Regions from separate parts of the Homo sapiens genome. Here region 2 is linked to region 1. Evidence: fine-mapped expression QTL. A gene starts in region 1. The other region holds a variant in brackets. All regions are shown on one strand. Distances are from middle to middle.

What was found. PIP is the estimated chance that this variant, and not a neighbour inherited with it, causes the effect.
Region 2: its variant is fine-mapped to the expression of ANKRD65 in prefrontal cortex (GTEx, PIP 0.95).

The regions. Positions count from the first base shown.
Region 1 is chr1:1,412,747-1,425,442 of GRCh38, reverse strand. It overlaps ANKRD65 (ankyrin repeat domain 65), which reads left to right and starts at 4,167. Exons shown (of 4, transcript NM_001145210.3): 1 at 4,167-4,310; 2 at 4,438-4,646; 3 at 4,851-5,391; 4 at 5,894-7,023. The coding sequence starts at 4,438. The coding sequence ends at 6,343. ANKRD65-AS1 (ANKRD65 antisense RNA 1) reads right to left here and starts at 5,277. Exons shown (of 2, transcript NR_187360.1): 1 at 4,879-5,277; 2 at 2,156-2,974. RefSeq lists enhancers at 1-47, 6,498-6,947, 7,115-7,194.
Region 2 is chr1:1,119,988-1,135,880 of GRCh38, reverse strand. LOC124903819 (a long non-coding RNA gene) reads left to right here and starts at 6,897. Exons shown (of 2, transcript XR_007065349.1): 1 at 6,897-7,390; 2 at 8,449-12,978. LOC124903820 (a long non-coding RNA gene) reads right to left here and starts at 7,197. Exons shown (of 3, transcript XR_007065351.1): 1 at 7,123-7,197. RefSeq lists a cis regulatory region at 1-1,031, an enhancer at 12,106-12,924 and a silencer at 13,533-13,872. The variant C/G (reference allele first, on the strand shown) is at 6,726.

The DNA.
Region 1 (12,696 bases):
CAGGGCTGGAGTGCAGTGGCACGATCTCGGCTCACTGCAACCTCTGCATACCTGGTTCAAGTGATTGTCCTGCCTCAACTTCCCTAGTAGCTAGGACTACAGGCGCTCACCACCGCGACCAGCAAATTTTTGTATTTTTTTTTAAGTAGAGACGGGGTTTCACTGTGTTAGCCAGGATGGTCTCGATCTCTTGACCTTGTGATCCGCCCACCTTGGCCTCCCAAAGTGCTGGGATTGCAGGCGTGAGCCACGGCGCCCAGCCCATCATTTCTAGTCAGGGGCAAAACTTTTCCCATCCAAAACCCCAAGCATTTTCTCTGAACGTTACTCCCGACTCTGACTTTTTTTTGAGACAGGGTCTCACTCTGTCACGCAGGCCGCAGTACAGTGGTTCAATCACGGCTACGGCAGCCTTGACCTCCTGGACTCGATCAGTCCTCCCACTTCAGCCTCCTAAATAGCTGGGACTACAGGCACCTAACCACCGCGCCCGGCTAGTTTTGGTATTTTTTGTAGAGATGGGATCTTGTCACGTTGCCCACACTGGTCTGGAACTCCTGGTGTCAAGTGATCTGCCTGCCTGGGCCTCCCACAGTGCTGGGATGACAGGCATCAGCCCCCGCGCCCAGCACAGTCCCTGACGTCTGTCCGTCTCCCAGGGCTTTATTGCACGTCAGCAGTTCCAGCTCCATTTTCTTTTCTTTCTTTTTTTTTTGTCGAGGAGGAATTTTTTGCTCTTGTTTCCCAGGCTGGAGTGCAATGGCACGATCTCGGCTCACTGCAACCTCCATTTTCCAGGTTCAGGCAATCCTCCTGCCTCAGCCTCCCGAGTAGCTGGGATTACAGGCGCACACTACCACGCCCGGCTAATTTTTGTATTTTTAGTAGAGGTGGGGTTTCACCGTGTTAGCCAGGATGGTCTCAAACTCCTAACCTCAGGTGATCTGCCCGCCTCGGCCTCCCAAAGTGCTGGGATTACAGACGTGAGCCACTATGCCCAGCCTCCAGCTCCGTGTTCATAATTAATTGACAGGAGTAGGTGTCTGTGAGCTGAGCCGTTCCCTGTGAGGCCTTCTAGTGGGCTCCATCCCTTCCAACACCTTCCAGGCCTCTCCAGCTCACCTACTTCCTTCAGACTTGTGAACAAGAAGGAGAGTGGTACCATGTGGCGTGTGACATCTAGCAGGGCAGCAGAGGCCTCCCTGCAGTGTCCCTACAGCGCTGGGCACGGTGGCTCACACCTGTAATCCCAGCATTTTGGGAGGCTGAGGCGGGTGGATCACTTGAGGTCAGGAGCTTGAGACCAGCCTGGCCAATTTGGTGAAACCCCGTCTCTGCTACAAATACAAAAATCAGGCCGGGCACGGTGTCTCATGCCTGTAATCCCGCACTTTGGGAGGCTGAGGCGGGTGTATCACCTGATGTCAGGAGTTCGAGACCAGCCTGACCAGTATGGTGAAACCTCCTGTCTTAAAAAAAAAAAAAATACAAAACTTAGCTGGGCCTGTTGACACGTGCCTGTAGTACCTGCTACTCGGGAAGCTGAGACAGGAGAATTGTTTGAACCCGGGAGGAGGAGGTTGCAGTGAGCCGAGATCAAACCATTGCACTCCAGCCTGGGCAACAGAGCGAGAATCCATCTCAAAAAAAAAAAAAAAAAAAAAAAAGTTAGCCAGGCATGGTGGTGGGCGCCTGTAATCCCAGCATTTTGGGAACCTGTGGAAGGCGGATCACTTGAGGTCAGGAGACCAGCCTGGCCAACATGGTGAAACCCTGTCTTTACTAAAAATACAAAAATTAGCCGGTCATGGCGGTGGGTGCCTATAATCCCAGCTACTTGGGAGGCTGAGGCAGGAGAATCACTTGAAACTGGCAGATGGTGGTTCCAAGTGAGCTGAGATCACACCACTGCACTCCAGCCTGAGTGACAGAGTGAGACTCCGTCTCAAAAATACAAATAAAAAGTTTTAAAAAGTTGCAAAACCTCTGCTTTCTAAGTGCCCCCCAACCAGGTCTCTCGCTTATTCATTCAACAAACACTGCTGAACTGCTACTAAGTCCCAGGGACTGTCATCGGAAAAGGAGGTCCCGATCCAGACCCCGAGAGAGGGTTCTTGGACCCCACACAAGGAAGAATTCGGGGGAGTCCACGGAGTAAACTGAAAGCAAGTTTAATAGGAAAGTAAAGGAATAAGAGAAGGGCTGCCCCATAGGCTGAGCAGCGGCCTGGGCTACTCCGACGAGAACACTTATTGTTGTTTCTTGATATGTACTAAACATGGTGTGGATTATTCCGGACTTTTCCGGGAAAGGGGCAGGCAATTCCCGGAAGTGAGGGTTCTTCCCCCTTTTAGACCATCTAGGGTAACTTCCCGGCATTGCCATGGCAACTGTAAATGGTCCTGGTGCTGGTGGGCGTGTCTCATGCTAATGTATTATAATCAGCACATAATGAGCAGTGAGGACTGGCTGTCTTGGTTTTGGTGGTTTGGGGCCGGCTTCTTCACGGCATCCTGTTTTATCAGCGGGGTCTTTGTGATCTGTATCTTGTGCTGATCTCATCCTGTGACTAAGAATGCCTGACCTCCAGGGAATGCGGCCCAGCCGGTCTCGGCCTCATTTTACCCAGCCCCTGTTCAAGATGGAGTCGCTCTGGTTCGAACGTCTCTGCAGAATCACTCCAGGTTCTTTGGATTCATGGCAAAGGGGCTGCGGCCTCTGCCCCTCCGTGCCCCACTGTGTGTGGGTCCTACAAGCATTGCAGAGGCAGCTGTGGCTGCCCCCACTGCGGTGGAACCCGGGAGACGGGAGTCTTGGGAGGGGCCTCCTCGAGGTCCATTCTAGCCGCTGTACCCCTGGGAAGCTGGCGTGAGGTAGTTTCTGTGGCCTCCCTGGCCCTGATGAGTACGGGACTTTCCACCCAGCCCCCAGAGCTCCTCGCTTCTTTCCCGGTCAGCCTTACGGAGCTTTCCTTCTAGAAGAGGAAGGCAGACATTTAAATAAACACATAGATACTTTCCTGTAGTGATAAATGCTAAGAACAAACTAAAACAGGGTTAGAGTCGCACGTTGCCTCAGATCCACCTGTGGTCAGGATCTGGGAAGGTGACGGATGAGTAGCCTGATGAGGTTTGTAGGGCAGGGTCTGTGTGGCTTGGGGGGTGGTGGGATGGGGCCCCTGGTCCCTTGGGCCCTTGGAGAGGCAGTCCTCTAGGGAGTGGGGGAGGCCAGACCAGGGCCCTCAGGAGACCCTGTCCTTGGGGACCTGGGAGGCTGAAGGGGGCTGGGGTGGGAATGGGTAGCCCTCATTACCTTTCCCGTGCAGCCGCTGGAGGGGCCAGGCTGCTGCAGCCACCCCAAAGAGCCATGCTCCCTTCTCCTGCCTGGCCCCAGGTACTGGGAGACAGGAAGATGCCCTCAGCACCAGCCCCACCCATCCTGCCCCAGGCCCCCAGGATCCCGCTGCCCCAGGCCTTGCTGGGGCAGAGCTGCTTTTCCAGATGCAGACGCACCCTAGCAGGGATTCTCCCCACTCTCCCGCCTGCCCCCCGACCCCCGCCCCCACCTGCCCAGGCATCTGTCCCTTCCCTGGCTCCAGACTTGCCCCAGCCAGTCCCCAAAGGGTTTTCGTCCCTCCCATGCCAGCGCCACCCTCTTTTCCAGGCCACCTGCCTGGAGTCCTTGGTGAATCTTTTGTCCTGTCCAGCATTTACAGAAAGGAAGGCCAGAACCTCACCCTGCCCTCCTCCCCAGCCTGGAATCGGGAGGAGGGGCCGGCACCCACCCCTGGGTGGGCTTAGCCAGCTGGGACAGGAGTGGGTGAGGGGGCTGCCCGAGGGTGGGCCCCATGGAGAGCCCTGTGAGGCCTTCCAGGGGCACATCGGGGTACATCCAAGGCTGCGCTTCCTGGGGGAGGTGGCGTCTGAGCAACTTTCGTCCACAAGCATGTTCCTGCTTGTCCTCCCCAACCGCCTGGCCTTTGTTCCCCAGGAGGGCAGCCGAACTGGGGCCCTGGCAGCCAGCAGGGGAGGGAGTATGTTGGACAGGGGGCTGTGCCCGAAGGCAGGGCCTTCCTAAGTGGCTGAGTAAACAGCGTCAGGTGGCCTCAGCCTGGCCCAGGGGACCAGCTGTGTTCTCCCACCCCCTGCAAGGCTGAAGCTGCCACCATTCAGCTTTTCAGCAGCAGACACTCCACCCCAAAGCCTGCAGAAGGGATTTTGTGAAGAGGGTCACCAGGCTGAGCCTCGGCCAGAACCCGTCTACAGAGGACCCTCAGCCAGAGCAGAAAGCTCCTGAGCCAGCTCCCTTGGGTAACAGAGCCAAGCCCCTCTGAAGGCTAAGTGGTAACTGGAATGGGGGGCTCCAGTTGGCCTGGGACACGGCTGGGGGCAGGCCAGAGGCCTCCACAGTGGATGTAGGATCCCTGCTCCCCCCCAGATGGACTCCCAGAGGCCTGAGCCCAGAGAGGAGGAGGAGGAGGAACAGGAACTGCGGTGGATGGAGCTGGACTCCGAAGAGGCCCTGGGAACCAGGACAGAGGGGCCTAGTGTTGTCCAGGGCTGGGGGCACCTGCTCCAGGCCGTGTGGAGGGGCCCTGCAGGCCTGGTGACGCAGCTGCTGCGGCAAGGTGCCAGCGTGGAGGAGAGGTGCACCTGCGCTGGGGGGTGAAGGGGTCCCTTCTCTGGGTGGGGCAGGATGGGGGTCCCAGCACTGGGTGGGTGGAGGAGTCCCTTCTCTGGATGGGGTAGGACGGGGGTCCCAGCGCTGGGTGGGCGGCAGGACGGGGTGGGGCAGGGCGGGGTTCTGGTCAGTGGTCCACCCCCGCGCCGACGCCCTTGCCCCCTCCTCAGGGACCACGCAGGCCGGACCCCGCTCCACCTGGCCGTGCTGCGGGGCCACGCGCCCCTGGTGCGTCTCCTGCTGCAGCGAGGGGCCCCGGTGGGCGCGGTGGACCGGGCGGGGCGCACCGCGCTGCACGAGGCCGCCTGGCACGGACACTCGCGGGTGGCCGAGCTGCTGCTGCAGCGCGGGGCCTCGGCGGCGGCTCGCTCCGGGACGGGCCTCACGCCGCTGCACTGGGCCGCTGCCCTGGGCCACACGCTGCTGGCCGCGCGCCTGCTGGAGGCTCCGGGCCCGGGACCCGCGGCAGCGGAGGCGGAGGACGCGCGCGGCTGGACGGCGGCGCACTGGGCGGCCGCGGGCGGGCGGCTGGCGGTGCTGGAGCTGCTGGCGGCCGGCGGCGCGGGCCTGGACGGCGCCCTGCTCGTGGCTGCCGCTGCGGGGCGCGGGGCGGCGCTGCGCTTCCTCCTGGCGCGCGGGGCGCGGGTGGACGCCCGGGATGGCGCGGGGGCCACAGCGCTGGGTCTGGCGGCCGCCCTAGGCCGCTCCCAGGTACGTCCCGCCCTCCGCCCGGCAGTGATGGGAGGGGGCGCAGGGCCAGGATCCCCAGAGACGTGCCACCGGGGCAGCTGGAGCCAGGCTGGGGGACGGTGTCCAGGCACGAAGGCCCTGAGCGCGCCCCCGGCTGTGCCCCTCCGGTGTAGCCCCGTCCCGTGGAGACCAGGGCGGGATCCGAGGCCCGGGGCTCGGCTTCATGCTGGTGGCAGCAACAGACTCTCCGCCAGCGCCGGGCCTGTGCCTGAGACCCCCGTTCCTGGGCAGCGGGCAGGGTGTTGGCTGCAGATCCTTGGATTTGCTCTAAGGACTCTTAGGGGGAAAAGTGGACGTTTCCAAGCAGGCCAGCCTTGGGTTCGGCCTCACAACATGAGGAAGTGGTGTCAGGAGAGACAGGCCGCTGCGGGGACAGAAGAGGCCTGGGCTGGGCAAACGCCTGGTGGCTCTGCCCCTCGCCTACCGGGCTGAGGCCGGCCCCTGCTTTTCTCTCCTCTTCTAGGACATTGAGGTGCTGCTGGGCCACGGGGCAGACCCAGGCATCAGGGACAGGCATGGCCGCTCTGCGCTGCACAGGGCTGCCGCCCGAGGACACCTGCTTGCCGTCCAGTTGCTGGTCACCCAGGGGGCCGAGGTGGATGCGCGGGACACCCTGGGCCTCACACCCCTGCATCACGCCTCTCGGGAAGGCCACGTGGAGGTTGCCGGCTGCCTGCTGGACAGGGGTGCCCAGGTGGATGCTACCGGCTGGCTCCGAAAGACCCCCCTACACCTGGCTGCAGAGCGAGGGCATGGGCCTACCGTGGGGCTTCTGCTGAGCCGAGGGGCCAGCCCCACTCTGCGGACGCAGTGGGCCGAGGTGGCCCAGATGCCTGAGGGGGACCTGCCCCAGGCGCTGCCTGAACTTGGAGGGGGGGAGAAGGAGTGTGAGGGCATAGAGTCCACGGGCTGAGCCAGACAGCAGGCTCCAGGCTCCACCGCCCCAGTGATTTCCAGGCTCTCTGGCTGAGGCTGCCTGCCTGGAGGGGACATCAGGGAAGAGGCTTCCGGAGGAGGGGATGGGAGAAAGTAGGGGATGTGGCTTGAGCTGCAGTCACAGGCCTTGGCTGGACCAGGGATGGCCCCCAGCTCCCAGGAGGGCCCACTGACCCTGCAGCTCCAGCCTTCTCCATACTTCAACAAAGAATGAGTTGTGGCAATGAGGGAAGAGAGACCCTCTCATAGTGTTTTATACTCAGTACCTGTTTTAAGAAAAAACAACAAGGAAGTAAAACCAAAGACAGGCAGGCAGCCTGGCGCTAGGCCCGAAACCAGGCCTGCGCCTGCCTGGCCTAAACCCAGTAGTTGAAAATCAATTCATAACTTAGAAACCGATGTTATTCATAGATTCCAGACATTGTATAGAAGAACATTTGTGAAACTCCCTGCCGTGTTCTGTTTCTCTCTGACCGCCGGTGCATGCAGCCCCTGTCACGTACCGCCTGCTTGCTCAAATCAATGACGACCCTTTCATGTGAAATCTTCGGTGTTGTGAGCCCTTAAAAGGGACAGAAATTGTGCACTTGGGGAGCTCGGATTTTAAGGCAGTAGCTTGCCGATGCTCCCAGCTGAATAAAGCCCTTCCTTCTACAACTGGGTGTCTGAGAGGTTTTGTCTGCGGCTCGTCCTGCTACATTTCTTGGTTCCCTGACTGGGAAACGAGGTAACTGACAGACGACCGAGGCAGCCCCTTAGGCGGCTTAGGCCTGCCCCGTGGAGCATCCCTGCGGGGGACTCCGGCCAGCCTGAGTGACGTGAGCTAAAGAGCGCTCCCGGGTAGGAAATTGCCTCGGTGGAACACCTCGCCAGAGCAGCCCATAACGGGCCCCCATGGTGGATTAACACAGTGGCTGAACACCGGGAAGGAACTGGCACTTGGAGTCCGGACATCTGAAACCTGGTAAGACTAGTCTTTGGAACTTGCCCCACTCCACCTGAGTAGACGCGTGGCCTGATCGCCCACGGCGTGCCTGCATTAGCACCTTTGTTCTGGTTTTGACTTGACTGAGATCATGTGATACTTTGGTTTTGGTTTTGACCTGGCTTGGATTTCTGGATACTCTGATTTTGGTTTTGATTTTGGTTTGGTGTAAACTGCAAAAGTGTGTGTGTGCCCTTTTTACCTGTTTTTTGTTTTGTGGTGTGAGCGTGGTGTTTTGTCTTGAAGAAGCGTGGGTCAGGCACAGATAAGCCCACCCCACTAGGAACTATGTTAAAAAAAATTTTTCAAGAAAGAATTTAAGGGAGATTACGGTGTTACTCTGACACCAGGAAAACTTACAACTTTGTGTGAAATAGACTTGTCAGCATTAGAGGTGGGTTGGCCATCAGAAGGAAGCCTGGACAGGTCCCTTGTTTCAAAGGTATGACACAAGGTAACGTGTAAGCCAAGGCACCCAGGCCAGTTTCCGTACATGGACAGTTAGAGCAGGTTTTAGACCCCCTCCCCCCTACGGTAGTTAAGAGAACAGCAGCATAAGCGGCTGGCAGAGGCAAGGAAAGACCAGCAGAGAGAAAAAGAGGCCATCTATACCAATTCTAAGTTAATTTAGACTAAACAAGGTCTTATTAATAGCAAAGGATAATTGAAATCCCAAACTTCCAAGGTTTTCAACAAAAGCGAAGTTTGCTAAAAGTTAACAGTGTAACATGTTAATGGTAACTTTTAATCTTGTGGCCTCAGACAGTCTAGTCCAAAGACATAAAAAAAGTTCGCTTTAAAAAAGAAAAAAAAAGGGGAGGCTGAATTTATGTGAAAAGCATGTTATACGGTAAATTCTTGTCCTGAAATATATTAACTGGTTGTTTAAAAGTTTGTAATAAGGCAGAAAGTTGAGATATGTTGAAGAATTGTCGGCGAAAGTTGTAAAACAAAATGTTATAAAAAATTTATGCAAAAAATGTTGTATAATTTAAAAGTAATAAGGCCTCCTGAGTACTATTTTTTTTTTTTTTTTTTTTGAGACGGAGTCTCACTCTGTTGCCCAGGCTGGAGTGCAGTGGCGTGATCTCGGCTCACTGCAAGCTCCGCCTCCCGGGTTCACGCCATTCTCCTGCCTCAGCCTCCCGAGTAGCTGGGACTACAGGCGCCCGCCACCACGCCTGGCTAATTTTTTGTATTTTTAGTAGAGACGGGGTTTCACCGTGTTAGCCAAGATGGTCTCGATCTCCTGACCGCGTGATCCGCCCGCCTCGGCCCCCCAAAGTGCTGGGATTACAGGCGTGAGCCACCGCGCCTGGCCCCTGAGTACTATTAAAAAAAAAAGTTTATGTGCAAGGTGTACAAGAAAAGTAAAATATACCTTTGGTAAAAAAAATTATAAAGGGGCATAAAAATATGGATTTTTACCTACATTAAAAGGTTAAAAAAATTATTGTTTTTAAGAGTTTAAGCAAGTTTTAAAATGTAAATTGTAAAGAAAATTCTGTGTGTAAACATGTTAACTAAAGTTAAAAAGGTATCGTCCAGTTTTTCTGTGAACTGGACATTAAAGTAAAAATGCAACAGGTTTTTCTTAAAGCATCAACCTGCTCTTTAACAAAAGTTATAAAAGGTTAAAAAGAGTCTATAAAATCTTACCTTATGGTCAAACATGAAAAATTGGATAAATATGTCTACAAGGTTTTATTAAAATTAAGTTTAACATTAATAACACACTAATATAAAGGTAAAATTTAGCTTATCTGGTATAAAAATCATACAAGAAGCATTATTAAATATAAAATGGTGTTTAGCTTTCTTTGGTCTAAAAACTAATAAAAATAGGTGCTAAAGGAAACATTCATTTTACTAGAGGATCATGGAAGTTTAAGACTTAAAACAAACTTTGGCAATTAAGACAGCATACCAAGATGCAAAATGCCTGGTTGAAATGGATCAGATATTCCATCTGATGTTAAACAAAAGCAATTGTGATGCTCGTGCACATGGCAGGCCAAAGGCTCTGATTGTCCCCCTTCCACTAAGGTGGTCCTTCAGTCGACCAGGCGTGGGCTGCACGGTAGCTCTTTTCCAGGATTCTACAGCCTGGAGCAGCAAGTCATGCCAAGCTCTCCCCGCTACATTCTGCAGTCCCTGCGGGTCAGCCCCCGAGGGCCATCCAGCTTCCGTCTCCCAAAACTAAGTTCCCTTCGTGTCTCTCACGGCAGGGAGGAGACTTAGCAGTCCTTGGAGACTGGAAGGGATGCAGTGAGCTTAAGAATTTTCGAGAGCTTATCAATCAGTCAGCCCTTGTTCATCCCTGAGCGGATGTGAGCGGATGTGTGGTGGTATTGTGGTGGACCTGTACTGGGCACTCTGCCGAATAACTAGAGTGGCACTTGTGCTTTAGTCCGTTTGGCTATCCCTTTCACCCTGGCATTTCATCAACCAGAGGAGAAAAAAAAAAAAAGACATCGTAAAGCGAGAGAAGCCCCTTATGGGTCTTTCAACTCTCACATCTATTTAGACGCAATTGGAGCCCCACAAGGGACACCAGATCAATTTAAAGCTTGAAATCAAATAGTTACAGGATTTAAGTCAATATTTTGGTAGATGACAGTCAATAAAAATGTAGATTAGATAAACTACATCCATTCCAACCAACAGCAACGAGCTTTTCATGAGTCAAAAAGAAAAACTCATGTCAGCCCCAGCCCCGAGGCTACCTGACCTGACAAAACTCTTTACACTCTATGTGTCAGAAAGAGAAAAAATAGCAGTTGGAGTTTTAACCCAGACCGTAGAGCCCTGGCCAAGGCCAGTGGCCTATCTCTCAAAACAACTAGACGGGGTTTCCAAAGGCTGCCCCCCTGTCCAAGGGCCCTGGCAGCAACGGCCCTGTTAGCACAAGAAGCAGATAAGCTAACTCTTAGGCAAAACCTAAAGTCCCCCCATGCTGTGGTGACTTTAATAAATACCAAAGGACATCATTAGCTAATGAATTCTAGACTAACTAGATACCAAAGCTTGCTCTGTGAAAATCCCCACATAACCACTGAAGTTTGCAAAACCCTAAACCCTGCCACCTTGCTCCCAGTATCAGAGAGCTCAGTGAAACTTAACTGTGTAGAAGTGTTGGACTCAGTTTATTCTAGGGGGCCCAACCACCGAGACCATCTTTAAACATCAGTAGACTCGAGCTGTACGTGGACGGGAGCAGCTTCGCCAACCCCTGCAAAGTGACTCTGAAGAAGACGACAAGCCCTGCTCCAGTCACACCCGGAAGCTGACTGGTCCACGTACAGCCGAAGCATGAGGAAACTCATCGCGGGACTCATTTTCCTTAAAATTTGGACTTGTACAGTAAGGACTTCAACTGACCTTCCTCAGACTGAGAACTGTTTCCAGTATATACATCAAGTCACTGAGGTAAGACAAAAGATTGCTACAGTCCTATTATTTTATGGTTATTGTAAGTGTACCAGGATTCTAAAAGAAACTTGTTTGTATGATGCTATTCTATCCAAGGTATGCAGCCCAGGAAATAACCAAACTGATGCGTGTTATGACCCATTTTAAGCCTCCCATGATCACAGGACTGGTCCTTTTCTAGGTGACACAAGTAAGTTAATAGCTAGAACAGAAGAAAGAGGGGTCCCCAAAAATGTAACCTTAAAATTTGAGGCTGGTGCCGCTATTAATAGTTAGCAGCATGGAATAGGATGCAGTTCTCTAAATTGGAAAAAAAGTTACACAGTAAAAAAAAAATAAGTATATCTGTCAAGAATCACATTTATGTGAGATGTGTCAATACTGGTCTTGTGTCATTTGGGCTACTTGGAAAGAAGATAAAAAAGATCCTGTTTGGCTCCAAAAAGGAAAAGTCAGCCCCTCCTGCACGAGTGGGAGCTACAACCTTTTAGAATTGATAATCACAAACCCTTCAGACCCAAAGTGGAATAAAAAAAAGTGTTAACATTAGGCATTGACAGAAAAGGCTTAGATCCTAGCGTAAGCATCCTAATAGAAGGAGAGGTTCAATAACGCTCTCCACAACCATATTGCAGACTTTCTATGATGAACTAAATGTGTCAGTACCTGAGATTCCAGCAAAAACTAAAACTTTGTTTTTGCAATTAGCCGAACATGGAGCCCAGTCTCTACAAGTCACCTCTAGCTGTGTTTGCGGAGGAACCGTAACAGGAGATCAGCGGCCATGGGAAGCCCGAGAATTAGTTCCTACAGACCCAGTTCCTGATGAATTCCCAGCCCAAAAGAACCACCCTGACAATTTTTGAGTTCTAAAAGTCTCAATTATTGGACAGTATTGCATAGCTTGAGAAGGAAAAGGATTCACTCATCCTGTAGGGCGGCTTGGTTGTCTTGGGCAAAAGCTGTATAACGGTACCACAAAAACAGTTACATGGTGGAGTTCCAATTACACAGAAAGAAATCCATTCAGTAAATTTCCAAAGTTGCAGACTGTTTGGGCCTACCCAGAACTCCACCGGGACTGGACGGCCCCCACCGGGTTATACTGGATATGTGGACCCAGAGCTTATGCTAAGCTGCCTGATCAATGGACAGGTAGCTGTGTAATTGGCACCATGAAGCCATCTTTCTTCTTACTGCCCATAAAAACAGGTGAACGTCTGGGCTTCCCAGTCTATGCTTCCCGCGAAAAACGAAGCATAGCCATAAGTGATTGGAAAGATGATGAATGGCCCCCTGAAAAAATCATACAATACTACGGACCCGCCACTTGGGCAGAAGATGGCTCATGGGGATATCGAACCCCCATCTACGTGCTCAACCGAATCATACGGTTACAAGCTGTTTTAGAAATTATTACTATAAACCTGGTCAAGCCTTGACTGTTCTTGCCCGGCAAGAGACTTTGATGAGAAATGCTAGCTCTCAAAATAGACCAGCTCTTGACTACTTGCTAGCAGCTGAAGGAGGAGTTTGTGAAAAATTTAGCCTTACTAATCGTTGTCTACACATAGATGATCAGGGGCAAGTAGCTGAGAATATAGTTAAAGATATAACAAAACTGGCACACGTACCCGTGCACGTGTGGCATGGACTCAATCCAGGAGCCATGTTTAGAAATTAGTTCCCAGCAATAGGAGGATTTAAAACTCTTATAACAAGAGTAACAATAGTAATAGGAACCTGCTTACTGCTCCCTTGTCTGATACCTGTATTTCTCCAAATGATAAAAAACTTCATCACTACCTTAGTTCACCAAAATGCTTCAGCACAAGCATACTATATAAATCACTATCAATCTATTGCACAAAAAGACATAAGTAGCAAAAATGAGTGAGAACTCCCACTAATAA
Region 2 (15,893 bases), 290 kb after region 1:
ACCTTTGAACCAGAGCAACTCCATCTTGCACAGGGCCTGGGTAAAATGAGGCTGAGCCCGGCTGGGCCACGTTCCCATGAGGTCAGGCATCCTTAGTTACAGGATGAGATAGGAGGTTGGCACAAGACTGGTCACAAAGACCCCGCTGATAAAACAAGATGCTGTGAAGAAGCCGGCCCCAAATCACCAAAACCAAGACAGCCAGTCCTCACTGCTCATTATGCGCTGATTATAATACATTAGCATGAGAGACACGCCCACCAGCACCAGGACAGTTTAGTTGCCACGGCAACGCCAGGACGTTACCCTAGATGGTCTAAAAGAGGGAGGAACCCTCACTTCTGGGAATTGCCTGCCCCTTTCCCAGAAAAGTCCGGAATAATCCACACCATGTTTAGTACATATCAAGAAACAACAATAAGTATTCTCAGTGGAGTAGCCCAGGCCGCTGCTCAGCCTATGGGGCAGCCCTTCTCTTATTCCTTTACTTTCCTATTAAACTTGCTTTCAGTTTATCAGTGGACTCCCCCAAACTGTTTCTTGCTCGAGGTCCAAGAGCCCTCTTTGGGATCCCTTTCCGGTGACATTTACGCCCAGGGAATTTGTGCCCAAATGCACAGATCAGGCCCCTACCCTGAGGGCCCCCACTGCCTGCGACCATCCCATTCCAGACTCTCCCAGGCCCCTCCCTGGGGAGGGAGGTGGCAAGACCCTGTATCCAGGCCCCCGTGGTGGAGTGGGGTCTCCCGAAGGCCCAAAGGATACGGGAGGAGCCCCCGGGTGGTCAGAGCATCGGGGCGGGGAGGGGACGGTGACCCCGGGGGATGGACAATGGCTGCAGCCAAGATATCTGCCTGGGGGAGGTGGGATCACGGGTGGGGTCTCCAGGAGTGGAGGCCTCGGTGGCTACACGGAGATTCAAGCCCTTTGACGCCGCAGGCAAAGTCAGCCAGGACCCCATGGGTCCGTGACTCAGGAAGGCCCCTGGGAAGCCAGCCATCGCTGCCCAGCCCCCAGGGAGCCTGGCGAGTAAGCCACCCCCTCACGGTGTCCCCCTCCTGAGAGGGGCTGCAGCCTCAGATGGCGAGGAAGCCACACCCCTCACGGTGCCCCCTCCTGAGAGGGGCTGCAGACTCAGATGTCAGATGCTGCTGCGGGATGTACCCATCGGGGAGCCTCCCCACGGGGCCACCTGCTACTGTGGGGCTCTGCGCCTGCACGGACCCCCACCGGCCTCCAAATGTGCAAACACAGGCGCCTCTCAGGCACTCTGGGCCCCTGTTCGGCGGAACGCTGAAAAGGGCTGGTGCCCATCCCACTGAGGGTCCTGCGGGCACCTCAGCAGGACAGCGGACCCCGAGGAGCTGGTGGAGACACCCAGGGCCCTGCGAGGCCTCAGCCTCCCCGTGTCGCGGGGCCGTGTGCAGGGTCTGGGTGTAGGGACAGCCACACTATGCCAGGCCTGCAGGAGACCCCTCCCCCCTGAGGCAGCCCCCTGGTCCCTCGGGGAACTGGATGTTACTGGTGCTCCCAGGACAGCACAGAACTGTTTAGGGAGGGAAGCACTGGTGACCTGTTCTGGTTTTTGAGAGTGGAGTCGGGGTGGCGAGGTGAGGGGGTGAACGGTTTGACAGTGGAGTTGGGGTGGCGGGGTGAGGAGGTGAATGGTTTGGGACAGGGCAGAAAGCAGACGCGGGCATGTGGGGAGGGGGGCGTGAGGGATTTCGCCATGCGGGGATGTTTTGACAGCACTGGTTACCTGAGGCCTGTATTTCTTTCTTTTTTTTTTTTTTTTTTGAGACGGAGTCTCGCTCTGTCGCCCAGGCTGGAGTGCAGTGGCCCCATCTCGGCTCACTGCAAGCTCCGCCTCCCGAGTTCACGCCATTCTCCTGCCTCAGCCTCCCGAGTAGCTGGGACTACAGGCGCCCGCCACCACGCCCAGCTAATGTTTTGTATTTTTAGTAGAGACGGGGTTTCACCGTGTTAGCCAGGATGGTCTCGATCTCCTGACCTCGTGATCTGCCCGCCTCGGCCTCCCAAAGTGCTGGGATAACAGGCGTGAGCCGCTGTGCCCGGCCTTACCTGAGGCCTGTATTTCTTAGGAGAGAGAGAAAACCACTAAGTTTTCTTGGACACAGGAGGGGACCTCAGCAAGGAAGCATGAGCAGCCGCCCTTTTCCAGGAAAAGAAAACAAAATCTACGTCCTGGGAAGCTTTCCCTCCCCACGTCAACCACCTCCCCAGCCAGACCTGTGGAAGGGAGGCTGGGAGGCCTCAGAGTAGGGCCAGTGCCTGCGTAGGGTCAGTCAGCGGGGAGGAAGTGGAACATTAAACCCCAGGCGGAGTCGTCCTGGCCGCCGGCCCAGCCTCTGCCTGACGCTGGGGTCAGAGCCCAGCATCTGCTGAGGAGGCCGGGCAGGCAGGCGGCGGGCAGGGCGCAGGGCGAGGGGTGCAGCCACCGGGAGCCCCCCACACCGGACCCCGAGCATTGAGACTGCAGTGCCCACCCAGCCGGAGCGTCATCCTTGGCAGGACCCCACCAGGAGGGATGTACCAGGGATGCTGGACACCCAGGCCCCGCCACCCCAAAACAACGTCTCCACGTAAACCCAAGCGACCTTCCCTGGGGTGGGTGTGACCTGCCCTCCCCACCACTCTCAGGGCAGTTTTCTCCACCTGTAGCTCCCCCGGGCTCCCCAGGGTTCCTGGTCCTTCTCCTCTGTGTTTCCTGCTTGCTCCTAAAACTCAGCTTTCAGGCGGAACACACAGCCCGGAACCACCCTGCTCTCAGGCGGAACCCGCGAGCACACGCAGCAGAGCTCTGCTCTTCCTGGGGTTTTAAGGATGAGACATTGCAAGGTCCCCCGGGCTACACAGTGACCCCTCTGGCAGGTTGTGCCCCCAGAGTTCATGGTTAGAATCCAAACTCTCAGTACCAACAACGCGAGCGTGTGTGGAGAAGGGGCTACGAGACAGGTGAGTATGTGGGAAGCAGCCGTGAGGATGAGCCCTGGCCGGGTCCCACTGGTGTCCTAGTTGCAGGAGGAGGTTAGGGCAGAGGGACACGGGACGGACCTGCGCAGAGGCCGCCTGAGAGAAGGCAGCAGCGGGAGAGGCCTCCGCAGAACCAGCCCGGCAACCCTGGGACACCGGACCTTCCCCTCCCCCTCCGAGGCTGTGAGAAAATACATTTCTGTTGCTTAAGTCCCCAGGCTCGGTATTTTGTTCCAGCAGCTGGAGCTAGGACAACCCCAGACGCACCCGGCCAGCCCTGAGGGAGGGCGTTCACCGGCTTCCCATACGCATTGTAGGAGGCCGCATGGGCACCCTCCTCAGCCCTGGGCACCCTTGTCGTACCTGACAACCCTGTGTAGATTCCCTGCAAGCATCCAGGGTCCAAGGCGGCCGCAGGCTCCTCAGACAAAGGGCTTCCTCCACACATGGGCTCAGGGCTACGGGCTCCCTGACATCGACCTCCCCGGCAGCCGCCCTGGTGTTTCTCCCATTTGCCAGCGGACACATCCCAGGTGACACCCCACCTCGGAAGAGGCCCTCCTGGCAGGTGCCTGGCCCCAATGCCCAACGCAGGGCTCGCGGCGGCGATGGCGGCGGGTCTCAGGCAGGAGTGGGATCTCTCTGCTGTCCGGTCCTGCCCCTTGCCCCTGAGAGGCCCCACAACCCCACCCCCAGCACACCCTGCATGGGCACCCCCGTCTCAGGCTCTGCCTCCCGTGCCCTGACCCTGGGCGCAGAGGGCCACGTGCCTGTGACTCCGCTTCCCTGGCGGTGAGGGGTCCGGCCTTGTGTCCCATGACTCGGGCTCTGCTCCCTGACGACCTCGCTGGGGCTGCCCCCACCCTTCCGTGGAGTCCTTTGCGACGGTTTCTAAGGGCTCAGAGTGCAGCATTGATTTCAACCATGTGTCTCTGTCATTAAAATAGTCCCCTGACTTTGCCTGTGGAATGTTTTGCTCTCTTCCCATTTTAAGTTAAATGTGGTCAGTGTGACGGAAGGAAATGCGGGTTTTTCTCCAGACCGTCTTGTGCAAGGAGAAGAAGCCTTGAAAAGAAGAGGCACAAACTATCAGGAACGTCCTCGAAGAGATGAGCGAAAGCACGTGGCCACAGAAAACCATGAGGATGCAACAGAAAGAACGACTCCGAGGGGCCGGGCGTGGCGGCTCACGCCTGTCATCCCAGCACTATGGGAGGCCGAGGCGGGCGGATCATGAGGTCAGGAGATCGAGACCATCCTGGCCGACACGGTGAAACCCCGTCTCTACTAAAAATACAAAAAATTAGCCAGGCATGGTGGTGGGCACCTGTAGTCCCAGCTACTCGGGAGGCTGAGGCAGGAGAATGGCGTGAACCAGGAGGCGGAGCTTGCAGTGAGCCGAGATCACATCACTGCACTCCAGCCTGGGCGACAGAGCGAGACTCCGTCTTAAAAAGAATGACTCCGAGGACAGAAACGAAAAGCGCTGGAAGGGACGGAGCCAGGACGTTCCCCGAACGTGACGTGAAAAGGCAAAGAAAATGGGATAGAAAAGGTGATTAGAGGACCTGCTCCAAATTGCAGCAATATTCACCAGAGAAAGAGAGAGCAACAACAAAAAGAAAAGATAAAGAACAAAATCATTTAAAAATTGTAATTCAAGAACATTTCCTGGAGCCGAAGCTCAGGCATTTCCAGACAGAAAGAGCCACTGAGGACCCCGTGAAAGGGATGAAAACGGAACCACACAAAGATCCACCTTCACAGGACAGCAGAGATGGAGACAAAAAGAAGGCCCCAAAAACTTTCAGGAAAAAACCCGCAGAAACAGGTTCCATACCAAGGCCCCGGGGTTGGGATGCCATTGCCGGACCCACAGCAGCCTCGGGAGCCGGGGACCCTGCGGCGAGGTTTTCTCAACTCGCAGGGAAGCGAAGGCCTTGGTGGGGGCCCGCCCTGTGCCCTTCACAGGCAGCTGCAGCTGTGGGCGTGGTGGGGGCCCACCCCCTGCACCTCACGGGGAGCTGCGAGGGGCTTGTTCCACCAAAACACTGAGAAGACAAGAAAGGGGAGGTGTGGGGCCCGGGAAAATCCCACCCAGGGGAGAAGCAATGGGACCTTTGTGACACGGACCACGAAGCCTGCAAGACGCCAGCCCTGCCCCAGGCCCGAGGGAGCCGACCAGCCCCGGGCAGGGCAGGAGGCTCCCGGAGGCCCCTCAGAAATACCTGGCGTGCCGGAATTTAAGTCATGGGGGAGAGTCTGAGGCTGAATTAGTAATGAGTTCAGAGAAAGCTAAGCAAGAAGAAAAGCAAAGGCGATTATTAACTTCAGGGAAACAGCTCAGAGTTCGGGTGAGAACAGGCGGCCACGGTGGACCTGGCACCAAGCTAGTCCCCGGCGCCCAGCAGAGTGACAGCAGAGACCAGGCGCGGCGCGTGACGGCGGGACGAGAGGTGGGAGGGCGGCAAACAGCCCCTTCCACAGGGCAGATTCAGGGCTGACCCTGAAGCTGGAGTGCTGAGAAGCTGCCGTTTGCCAGTGACGTTGGAAGTAAACACAGGAGCCTCCCAGCACACGGAGCTGGTGGCCTCGGCGCGGCCTGAAGATCATATGTGTCCAAGCCTTGCAGAAGTGTTTGACTCTCAAGCAACCTACAGGCATAACTGGTTTTTTTTTTTTTTTTTTTTTTTTTTTTTTGAGACAGAGTCTCACTCTGTTGCCCAGGCTGGAGGGCAATGGTGCCATCTGAGCTCACTGCAACCTCCGCCTTCCAGGTGCAAGCGATTGTCCTGCCTCAGCCTCCAGAGTAGCTGGAATTATAGGTGCCCGCCACCACATCCAGCTAATTTTTTTGTATTTTTAGTAGAGACAGGGTTTCATCATGCTGACCACGCTTGTCTCGAACTCCTGACCTCAAGTGATCCGCCCGCCTTGACCTCCCAAATGCGAACCACTGTGTCCGGCCACAAGCATAACTTTGATAGAAAAGGCAATAACAAATTAAGTTGGTGCGAGCTTTACCCTCTGAGTCCTCGGAATCATTTTTAAAACATAAAGGTTTCCAGAACTCACAGCTGTGAACTTAACTGTTCTCAAGGGGGTATCTTTGATTGATTTTCCTAACTCTTCTACGATAATCGGCCTTTTCCCCTCTTCTGCTTCCTCTCGTTCTGGCAGCCGATGCTCACATCCATAACAGTGTCTGTTTCCCTGGATTTTCCCATCCCAGGGCCACGCAGAGTGCAGCTCCCCTACACGGCCACGGCATTCTGTCCCTCTGTCGCGTGGCCATGCGTGGCTCAGTGCCGTGGGAGCCTCTCCGTGTCTGAGGCCGAGGGCAGGCTGGTGCCCCATTCGCTCTGTGCCTCACAGGCGGCCCTGATGCTCTGTGCTCCAAATCTCTGCAGGACTGGATTTCGGCCGGGACAGAGGAGGCTGTGCCCCCACCCACGTTGTTCCCAATGCCCACGCACCTTGTCAACTGGAATAAATTTGGTTTCCCTGCAAGAGCTCTCTGCCAGGAAATGTAAATCATGGCTTCTCAGTCTCTCTCCCCCTCTGAGGGCCCCCTGGCTGGGTCATTCACAGGCCCCGAGGAACTCTGGGGCCTTCGCAGCCATCTTTTCCTACAGGAACCCCCAGACACCCATAATCATCACGGGGACCCAAGACCCCAGCTTCTCCCGGGGGGCACATGGTCACCCTGTGGCCCCCTCCAGGCATCTCCG[C/G]TCAGGCTGTGGGACCCCAGGCCCGGCCCACCTGGCCAGCACAGCCCTGCAGGCCCCAGCTGACCCTCACCACCCCCCAGCCAATAGCAGAAGCCGCCAGCCCTGGGGAAGGCCCTCCGGCTGAATCCCTCCTCTTCTGAGGCCTTGCCCTCCCCGCGGGCTCCGCCTGCCACAACTGTGCCCTGGGCTCACCAGCGGGACCCCCAGGTCCTCCCCAGCACACCATGGAGGCCCCTAAGGGCTGGGCCTTGGCCAGGCGACTGGGGAGGGGCTGGTCCCGGAAGAAAAGCTTTGTGGGGCCGTGGGTGCGGGGGCTTTCGGCTCATCAGAAGCCACCAGCCCTTGAGACAAAACCTCCCAGACGCTGTGGGTCAGACCCACAGAGCCTCAGTCCTACCTGGTCCTGGGAGGGCGGAGGGCGGTGTGGGCCTGGTCCCAGGACGGCGGAGGGCAGTGTGGGCCAGGCGCGGACTCCCCCGGGCGCCCTCATGGTCTTATCTCTGCCCGGCCGGCGGAAGGCGGCGGGAACCTTTGCCTGGTACAACCACTACTGCTCCACAGCCCAGGAATTTGGCATTGAATAATTTTTAACTTCTGCTCTGAGAGAGGAGCTGGCCTTGGATTTAGTGTCCGTGCATGCAGGAATGCCGGGGCTCCATTTTCAAGTAAGTGCCTCGCGGAAAGCCGGCCTCGGAAAAGCAGAGAGAAAAGAGCAAGAAAAGTCAGAGGGGCAGGTCTGGCTGGCATCCAGCGGTGGCCAAGCCCGCAGCCCAGGTCTGACCTCACAGATGGACAGCTCCCCATGTGGGAGAAGCCGCGGGCATCTGGGGGGGGCACCAACTCCCTGGGGTCTAAAGCAGGGTTTGCGCTTCCTGGCAGGGGGGAAAGGCTGCACCTCACACCTCTCTGGGTGCAGAGCGGCTCCGGGACGGCTCCCCTCTCCTGCGCGCCCGCCCCACCTGTAACCCCAGGCCTGGTCCCGCATGATATGTTTGAATGCCAGAACCCGACGCAGCCCGCGCCACGCCCGAAACCTGCACCCCCGTCTTGCAGTCGCTGCCCTTGGCAGTCAGCACGAGCACCAGACCTGGGGGTCCTTCTGTGCTTGTCCGAGGCTCAGGCCTGTGACCCTGGCTGCTGGCTGCCCCCACTCCCACAGCACGGGCCACCAAAGCCCCAGTCCTGGGCCACAGTGGGGCGGTGGCGATGACACCCAGGGCCCTGCGGCTGAACGTGGCCAGGGCTTCACAGAGACCCGGGGCCGCCTTGTCTCCAGCCACGGTGGAGGAGGCAGCGGCCCTGTGGCTCTGCCCATGGAGTTGGGAAACATAAGGCCCAAAAGCAGACTCGTCCTTTAACTGAGTTTCGCTGGGGCCGGCTTGGGGACCCACCTCTCACGAGAGCACTGGCCTGCCGGCATGCCAGAGCCCCTGACACCACACAGGAGCCGGGTGGGGCTGGGCGTAGCCCGTGGTATCGGCCCCCCAGACCTGGCCACCTAGGCCCAGGGCAGCACCCGGGGAGGACGGGGGTCTGGGTGGCCGGTGGCTTCCCGTGGCCGCTGCTCAGCCCCACTCTGTCCAGCCCCCTGGGAGTGGCTGTGGAGGGCATCCTGTGTGCTGGAGGGGCAAGATGGGGAGGGCTCTTGTCCAGAGACCCAGGGGTGCCGTTTCAGAAAACAGAGCATCATGTGCTGGGACCAGACACAGCTCATCTTTTCCAGGGGACGGCGAGAAGGACACGCTCGGTTCCGCACTCTCAGGCTCCTGCTCCTCACAAGGCAAGCGCCTCCAGGGAGCTGCATTTGGGAAAATATCCACCAAGCACTAAAGAAACACAACCATAAAGAACCATAAAGCATCCACGCGGAAAAGCTTATTCAGATCAATAAAGCTGCGGCGGGCCGGGCACAGTGGCTCACACCTGTCATCCCAGCACTTTGGGAGGCCGATGTGGGTGGATCACGAGATCAGGAGATGGAGACCAGCCTGGCCAACATGGTGAAACCCCGTCTCTACTAAAATACAACAAATTAGCTGGGCGTGGTGGCACGTGCCTGTAGTCCCAGCTACTCAGGAGGCTGAGGCAGAAGAATTGCTTGAACCCAGGAGGCGTAGCTTGCAGTGAGCAGAGATTGCACCACTGCACTCCAGCCTGGGTGACAGAGCGAGACTCCGTCTCAAAAAACAAATAAATACATAAAATAAAAGTAATAATAATAAAAAAACTGCAGCGAGGGCCCAGCGTGCCCACCACTCATCAACAAGTCAAAGCGCGAACCCTGTGGGTGCAGCAGCCGGACCTCGGGTGTGCTGGCTTTCCGACACCCAAACCAGCAAACCTCACACCCGCTGCTCGCGGAGGGCCGCTGAAGCCGCAGCGAGGTGAGCGAGACTCCCCACTGGGGACAGAGAAAGACCCCTCCTCCCCCAAGTCACAGAAAGACCCCGTCTCCCCCAAGGCAGAGAAAGACCCCGCCTCCCCCATGGCAGAGAAAGACCCCGTCTCCCTCATGGCAGAGAAAGACCCTGCCTCCTCCATGGCAGAGAAAGACCCCGCCTCCCCCAAGGCAGAGAAAGACCCCGCCTCCCCCAAGGCGGGCGGATCACCTGAGGTCAGGAGTTCGAGACCAGCCTAGCCAAAATGGTGAAACCCCGTCTCTATTAAAAATACAAAAATTAGCTGGATGTGGTGGCGGGCGCCTGCAATCCCAGCTACTCGGGAGGCCGAGGCAGGAGAATTTCTTGAACCCAAGAAGCAGAGGTTGTAGTGAGCCGAGATTGTGCCACTGCACTCCAGCCTGGACGACAAGAGCAAAACTCCATCTCAAAAAAAAAAAAAAAACAGAGAGAATTCCAGGGAGGAGGTCACCACGCCGGTGCCGCCCCGGGAGCAGCTCACACTGACTTCACAGACGCACAGGGAGGCCATGGCGCAGGACAGGCAGACCGGCTGGCAGGCCAGCACTCCAGGCTGCTGAGGGGCCGCTGCTGCCAGCTGACGGGGAGGCCCTCGGCCCCCACCCCGCGGCCCCTGCCCTCCTCCGTCCCCCGTCCTTCCCGGGGGGTCCCTGACTGTGACGGACAGCAGTGTGTTTGGTGTCTCCTGTGCCTGCGGAGCGGTTCTGGAGTCTGTCTATGGAGTCTGCTTGTTTGAAGGCTGCTGTGACTTTCTTATATTTATCAGCAAATTTTGGGGATTTTTTTCCAGCGGGCGAATGGCCCAGGGCTGGAAGCAGGGTCCGTGCTCCCCCGAGCTGCTCTCCTGGGCTTCTTGAGGGCTCAGCTCTCCGGAACGAGGTGGATTGAGGATGGGTCCCCTCCAAGTACACTCCACCCCAGGCCCAGCACGAAGGGTACAGAGGGCGAAAGTCTGGATGGGATACCCCAGCCTGGGAATCTGTGCTTGCCTGGGACTCTCAGCAGGAGGTTGGAAGAGGACGGAGGACCCAGGACTCTTTCTGCACAGGGCCTGGGCCATCCACTCTTTGCCCTGGGGTAACTTGAGGGCCTGTGGAGGAAACATCTTTCCTGGAATCCTGGCCTGAGAGGATGCTAAGGGTTAACCCCTGAGGCTGACCCCAAGGGCGTCCATTCCTGCATAAAAGGCCCAGCTCAGCCAGCCCCATCGGCCACCTCTGTCAGGGGAAGAGTGTAGCTCAGGTGAGGTGTCGGGCGGGCCCCTGCTGGCCTCAGAGTCCACCCCTGCAGGCCACACCTCGGCCGCGGCAGTCCCTTTGAAGGAGAGGAAGGCCTGGAGGAGAGGCCTCGAGGCAGACACACACCCTCCCCTGTCCCCGCCACGGTCCTCCGAGCTCCTCCATGCCTGCTTCTGTGGTAGAGGCTCCTGTGGGGGCAGCTGTACTGGGCCCTGAGACCAAGCACTTCCCTGTGGGGTCAACAGGCCACCTCACTGTCTGAGTGCCACCCTGGGGCGTCTTTCTGGGCCACAGCCCCGGGAGCCGGGAGCTCCTCCAGCACCATGGCCTTCCCTATCCTCTCATCAGAACAGAGAGAGCAGGCACGGGGGCCGTCTTGTACCACGCAGACCAGGCTCCAGCAGCCGGGGCTCCCACCGCCCCTGAACCGATCTGGGGACTCACGGTCAGAGGCCCCCCTTTCCCCACATCCCTCCTGCCTCCCCCAGGCGGACAGACCCCTCGGCCTCCACAGCCGCTCAGCGGCTGCCCTGGGGAAAGCCTTCCATGGCCTTCGTCCTGGTGAGCCCTTATTTGTCAAATAAATATTTGCCCAGGGTGGGGCTTGCCACTCAGGGTCAGGCATTAAATGAGCCTAAAGTCCGCGGAGCCTGCAGCAGTGCCGTGGCCCAGGCCAGCAGCAAGTGAGGGGGAGGCTGGACCAGGGGTCTCTGCCTGACCTGGATGCATCTTCCAGCGCTGAGCTCCTGACTCACAGAGACTCTGCAAGGCCAAGGGGTTCTTGGGGTCTGGAGAACGTGGAGACCCCGGAGCTGATGCGAGGCAGCCTCTCCCTGGGTGGGGCAGTGGGTGGCGAAGGGCCCCACCCTCAGCCTGCGAAGCTCCTTCCAAAGAGAACCTGCAGTGCCTGCCCTGCCTGTGCCCACAGGGCTGCAGTTTCCAATAGAACAGAGGCTGAGGGAACCCGGGAATGTGAGGTCTCAGAGGCAGCAACCCCACGCATGTGGCAGCCCCAAGCAGTGAGCGGACTGGGTGCAGGAGGAGGCCCCAACCACGCCCAGAATTCACGTGGCTTCCTGCATGAGTTAGCTGCTGCCGTGTAACAAGTGACCCCACATGCAGTGGCTGGAACATGCACGTTTACCACGTCTGCTTCCAGAGCTCAGAAACTCAGAGCTGTGGACGTAGCAGGAAGCACAATTGCGAAGTGGACAGGGTGGTGGTTTCTCAGAGCTCAACTGCAGGGCATGTGTGTGCATAGGTGTGTGCCCAGGTGTGTGTCCAGGTGTGTGTGCAGGTGTGTGCCCAGGCGTGTGTGCATAGGTGGGTGCCCAAGTGTGTGTGCAGGTGTGTGCTCAGGTGTGTATGCAGTGGTGTGCGCAGGTGTGTGCACAGGTGTGTGTTCTCAGGTGTGTATGCAGTGGTGTGCGCAGGTGTGTGCACAGGTGTGTGGCGTGTGTGCAGGTGTGTGCGCGCAGGAGTGTGCACAGGTGTGTGCTCAGGTGTGTGTGGCATGTGCGCAGGTGTGTGCAGGAGTGTGTGCAGGTGTGTGCGCAGGTGTGTGCAGGTGTGTGCCCAGGTGTGTGCTCAAGTGTATGTAGAGTGTGCGCAGGAGTGTGTGCAGGTGTGTGCTCAGGTGTGTGCTCAAGTGTTTGCAGATACGTGCTGAGGTGTGTGCGCAGGTGTGTGCTCAGGTGTGTGCAGATGTGTGCTCAGGTGTATGTGCAGGTGTGTGTGGTGTGCACAGGTGTGTGCATGGGGGTGTGGGTGGGGTGTGCTCAGGTGTGTGTGTAGGTGTGTGCACAGGTGAGTGCAGATGTGTGCTCAGGTGTGCGCAGGTGTGTTTTCAGGTGTGTGTGCAGGTGTGCTCAGGTTTGTGCACGGGTGTGTGGCGTGTGCACAGGTGTGTGTGCACAGGTGTGTGTGCAGGTGTGTGCACTGTGTGTGCAGGAGTGTGCGCAGGTGTGTGTGGCGTGTGCGCAGGTGTGCGTGCAGGTGTGTGCTCAAGTGTGTGCTGCATGAGCTTCCGTACTTGCTCCTGGGCTTCTCACTGGCCAGGGCTGGTGTCCAGGGCGAGCCATCCCAGGCAGAGCACACAGGACGCAGCGTTTACAGCCCCATCTGGAGAGCACCACCTTCACTTCTGCCTTTGTCCACAAGGGAGGGGCTTGCATGGGGGAAGAGTAAGCGCTGCCTACCCGGGGCCCTGGATGTAGAACGGCCTGCAGCCAGGACTCCCGTCCGGTGTGTTTGGTGTTGCTGTTTTCCTGGAAGCCTCTGCGTCCCATCTGCGGGTTTGCTGGTACTGGTGGCTGACCGGTTAATGGTATGAAGTAGAGCAGTTTTGAGAAGCTCTGCATTTTGTTTTAGCTTCATGCAGGCACACACGACCCTGCGGGGCCAGGAGAGCAACTGCGGAGAAGGCTGTGCCCTGAGGCGGCAGAGCTGAGGCCAACAGCAACCGCAGAAGTGTGGGGCTTGTCCTCGTGCTGCTCCTCAGTGTTCCTCTTCATTTTCACAGACACAGCTCCGTGCTTTGCACGTATTTCACCATCTGTGTCATATGTAATTAAACTGCATCCTTGCACGGCCAAAGCTCTGGCCTGCGTCTGAGTGACTGGCGTCCCTACGGTGAACCAGGGTTTCCTGTGTGGACGCAGGACTTTGGTGCATAGAGACCCGCGTGAGGCAGAGGGGCTGGTGGATGGGGCCCCAGGTGGGCGTCTGGGGTTCGAAGCTGGGGTGTCTGCCCCACGCTGGCCCCAAGGGTGTTGGTCACAGGCCCCACCTCCCCACGGGCGAGGGGCACCCCTTGATTCAGGAGGTAGAATGTGGCAACAGAGAGAGGTGCCATGGGCACGGGAAGACGCCCCCACCTCGCTGAGTCGCCAGCAGGTAGGAAGGGGGGCCCCTGAGGCACGGGGGCCGTCGGGGGATGTGAGGATGGCTGTGGTCTGAGCTTCGAGGTGCCGTAGCTTCACTTCCGAGGGAGCCGGCCTCACAGGCCGAGGCCAGGGGGCCTTCTGCCACCCACCCAGCCCGGCGGGGCTGCCTCCCATCAGCTCCGAAGATCCCCCAGGTCCTGAGAACCCCTGCTCAGGGTCTCCTGAGGAAGGTCCCGGCCACACTGCCTGACTTCCCGGGCAGGAGTCGGAGCGGCTGGGTCGGCAACGCCAAGTGCAGTGCCCAGGTCCGGGCCCGGCACCCGTGAGGGAGAGACGCCACCTGCAGGCGGGCTCAGGGACCTGGCACTGGGGAGACGAGGGTCCGCGGATGCCCCAGCCTGTGCTCCCAGGGCCCCACGACCCAACCCGAGAGTCTCTGCCTGGGTGCCAGGCCCACTGAGGCCACAGGGGAGGGCGGAGGGTGGGGTCCCGGGGAAGCCATGGCGGGACAGAGGCCCCCCAGCCTCCTGCCCAGCCAGGCAGCCGAGCTCCAAAGGCAGCTGCAACCATCGTCATCTCAGCCCTGGCAAGGTTGAGGCTGTCCCACAGCCGCCGGAGGCTCTTTAGCCAGCACAGGACAGTTTCTAGGGAAGAGACGCCCCCCACACAGAGGGTTCCTGAAGCTCTGAGGAGGGAGCACCCACAGCCCAGCCCGCTGGTCCCCACGTCTCCTGGTCGTCCATCGGCCGAGAGCCCAGTGGGCATCAGGGCCAGTGGCTCAGCCTGGGAGGCTCCAGGACCTCAGGGCTGGCACCCCTCTGCCCAGAGCAAGGAAGGCCCCACCCCACCCACAGAACAGGCGCCACGTGAGGCTGGCCTCACCCCTGGGCCTGCTGCGGCTGCTGTAGGGGCAGGAGTCCCAGATGGGGTGGGGTGGGGGAGGGGGGGCAATCCCAGGGGGCAATGGGGGGAGGGGCAGCGTGGGCACCGGGAGGGGCTGGGGGTCGCCACAGCCCTGTTCAGCGCAGAACACAGGGCCTGCCTCCGCAGAGCAGGAGGCTTCAGCCTCGTTGCAGGGCAGCAGCCTGGCTGGGGAGGAGGTGGGGCCATGAACAGCACTTGCCTCCTTTAATTAGGGGATTAACTGCGTGCTGATAATTGAGCCTCCCCCAGCACCTGCCTGTTTGGAAGAGCTAACACCTCCACCTGCTCCTCCCTTAGGCAAGGAGGCCTCTGGGCCCTGCATGTCGGTGTGGGGGGGTGGACAAGGTGTCCAGGCTCAGCACTGCCGGGGGTAAAGGGCACCCAGCTGCAGTTCTGAGCCTCCCTCGTCCACGCACGTCCTGGTGTAGCTATGTGGGGACTGAGCCCCTTCCCCGTGAGCTGAAGAGCACCCCCCATCAGGGAGGCACGGCCTGGCCTGCTGGGAAGAGCAGCCCTTCTGGGAATGGCCTGCGGATAATTGGAGTCCCAGTGCAGTAGGAAGCCAGCGAGCCTTGGCACGCCAGCCCCAGGGACCGCATAGAGGTGACGCAACAGAAACCGAACCCCACCAAGGCCCCCAAAACCGAGCCCCACCGAGGCCCCCAAAACCGAGCCTCACTGAGGTCCCCAGGAGCCCTCAGGAGGAGCTGCTGTTTGGCACGGCTGGGAGCTCCGCCTCAGTTTCCCTCTTTCCGAAGTCATCTCTTAGGCTTTTTGTTTGTTTTTGAGACGGAGTCTCGCTCTGTTGCCAGGCTGGAGTGAAGTGGCGCGATCTCGGCTCACTGCAAGCTCTGCCTCCCGGGTTCAAGTGATTCTCCTGCCTCAGCCTCCCAAGTAGCTGGGATTACAGGCGCATGCCAGCATGTCCAGCTAATTTTTGTATTTTTAGTAGAGACGGGGTTTCACCATGTTGGTCAGGCTGGTCTTGAACTCCTGACCTTGGGTGATCCGCCCGCCTTGGCCTCCCAAAGTGCTGGGATTACAGGCTTGGGCCACCAAGCCCGGCATCTTCTAGGGGTTTTGAACTATTTGTCCAAATAGCCATGTCCTAGAATAAAGGACAAAGTCAAAGGCCCAGAGACCATTAAGCCCAGTCAGGGCCGAGGAGCTCAGGGATCCCCCACCACAGCTTCCCCCAGCGGAGCTCAGGGACCCCCACCCCCCACCCCTGCTTCCCCCAGCGGAACGGCAGGAACAGGAAGGCAGTGTCATAACCAGGAGGCATCCAGGCCCATGTGAGTGGTCCAACCTCCCGCACCCCTGGGGTGCCCGCCCCACCCCTGCTCACCACTGTGATCTGTGATCCAGCTTCACCGTTTTGCCCTTTAAGAGCTGTAGAACCAGGCACGGTGGGAGGGGGGCAGGTCGCATGAGCCTGGGAGTTCCAGACCAGCCGGGTCGACACAGCAAGTCTCCGTCTCTGCTTAAAAACATTTTTAAGAGGGAATGGTAGACCGTGGAACCACCGAGCACGCGCCCTTTTGAGGCAGGATTTTCTCGCCAGCCAAGGCCCTTGGAGTTGTTCAGGTCCCCCCAGATGGACGCTGCCTCCTTTGTTGTTGTTGGTTTTTTTTTTTTTTTCGTTTTTTGGGTTTTTTTTTTTTGGAGATGGAGTCTCGCTCTGTGGCCCAGGGGCGCGAT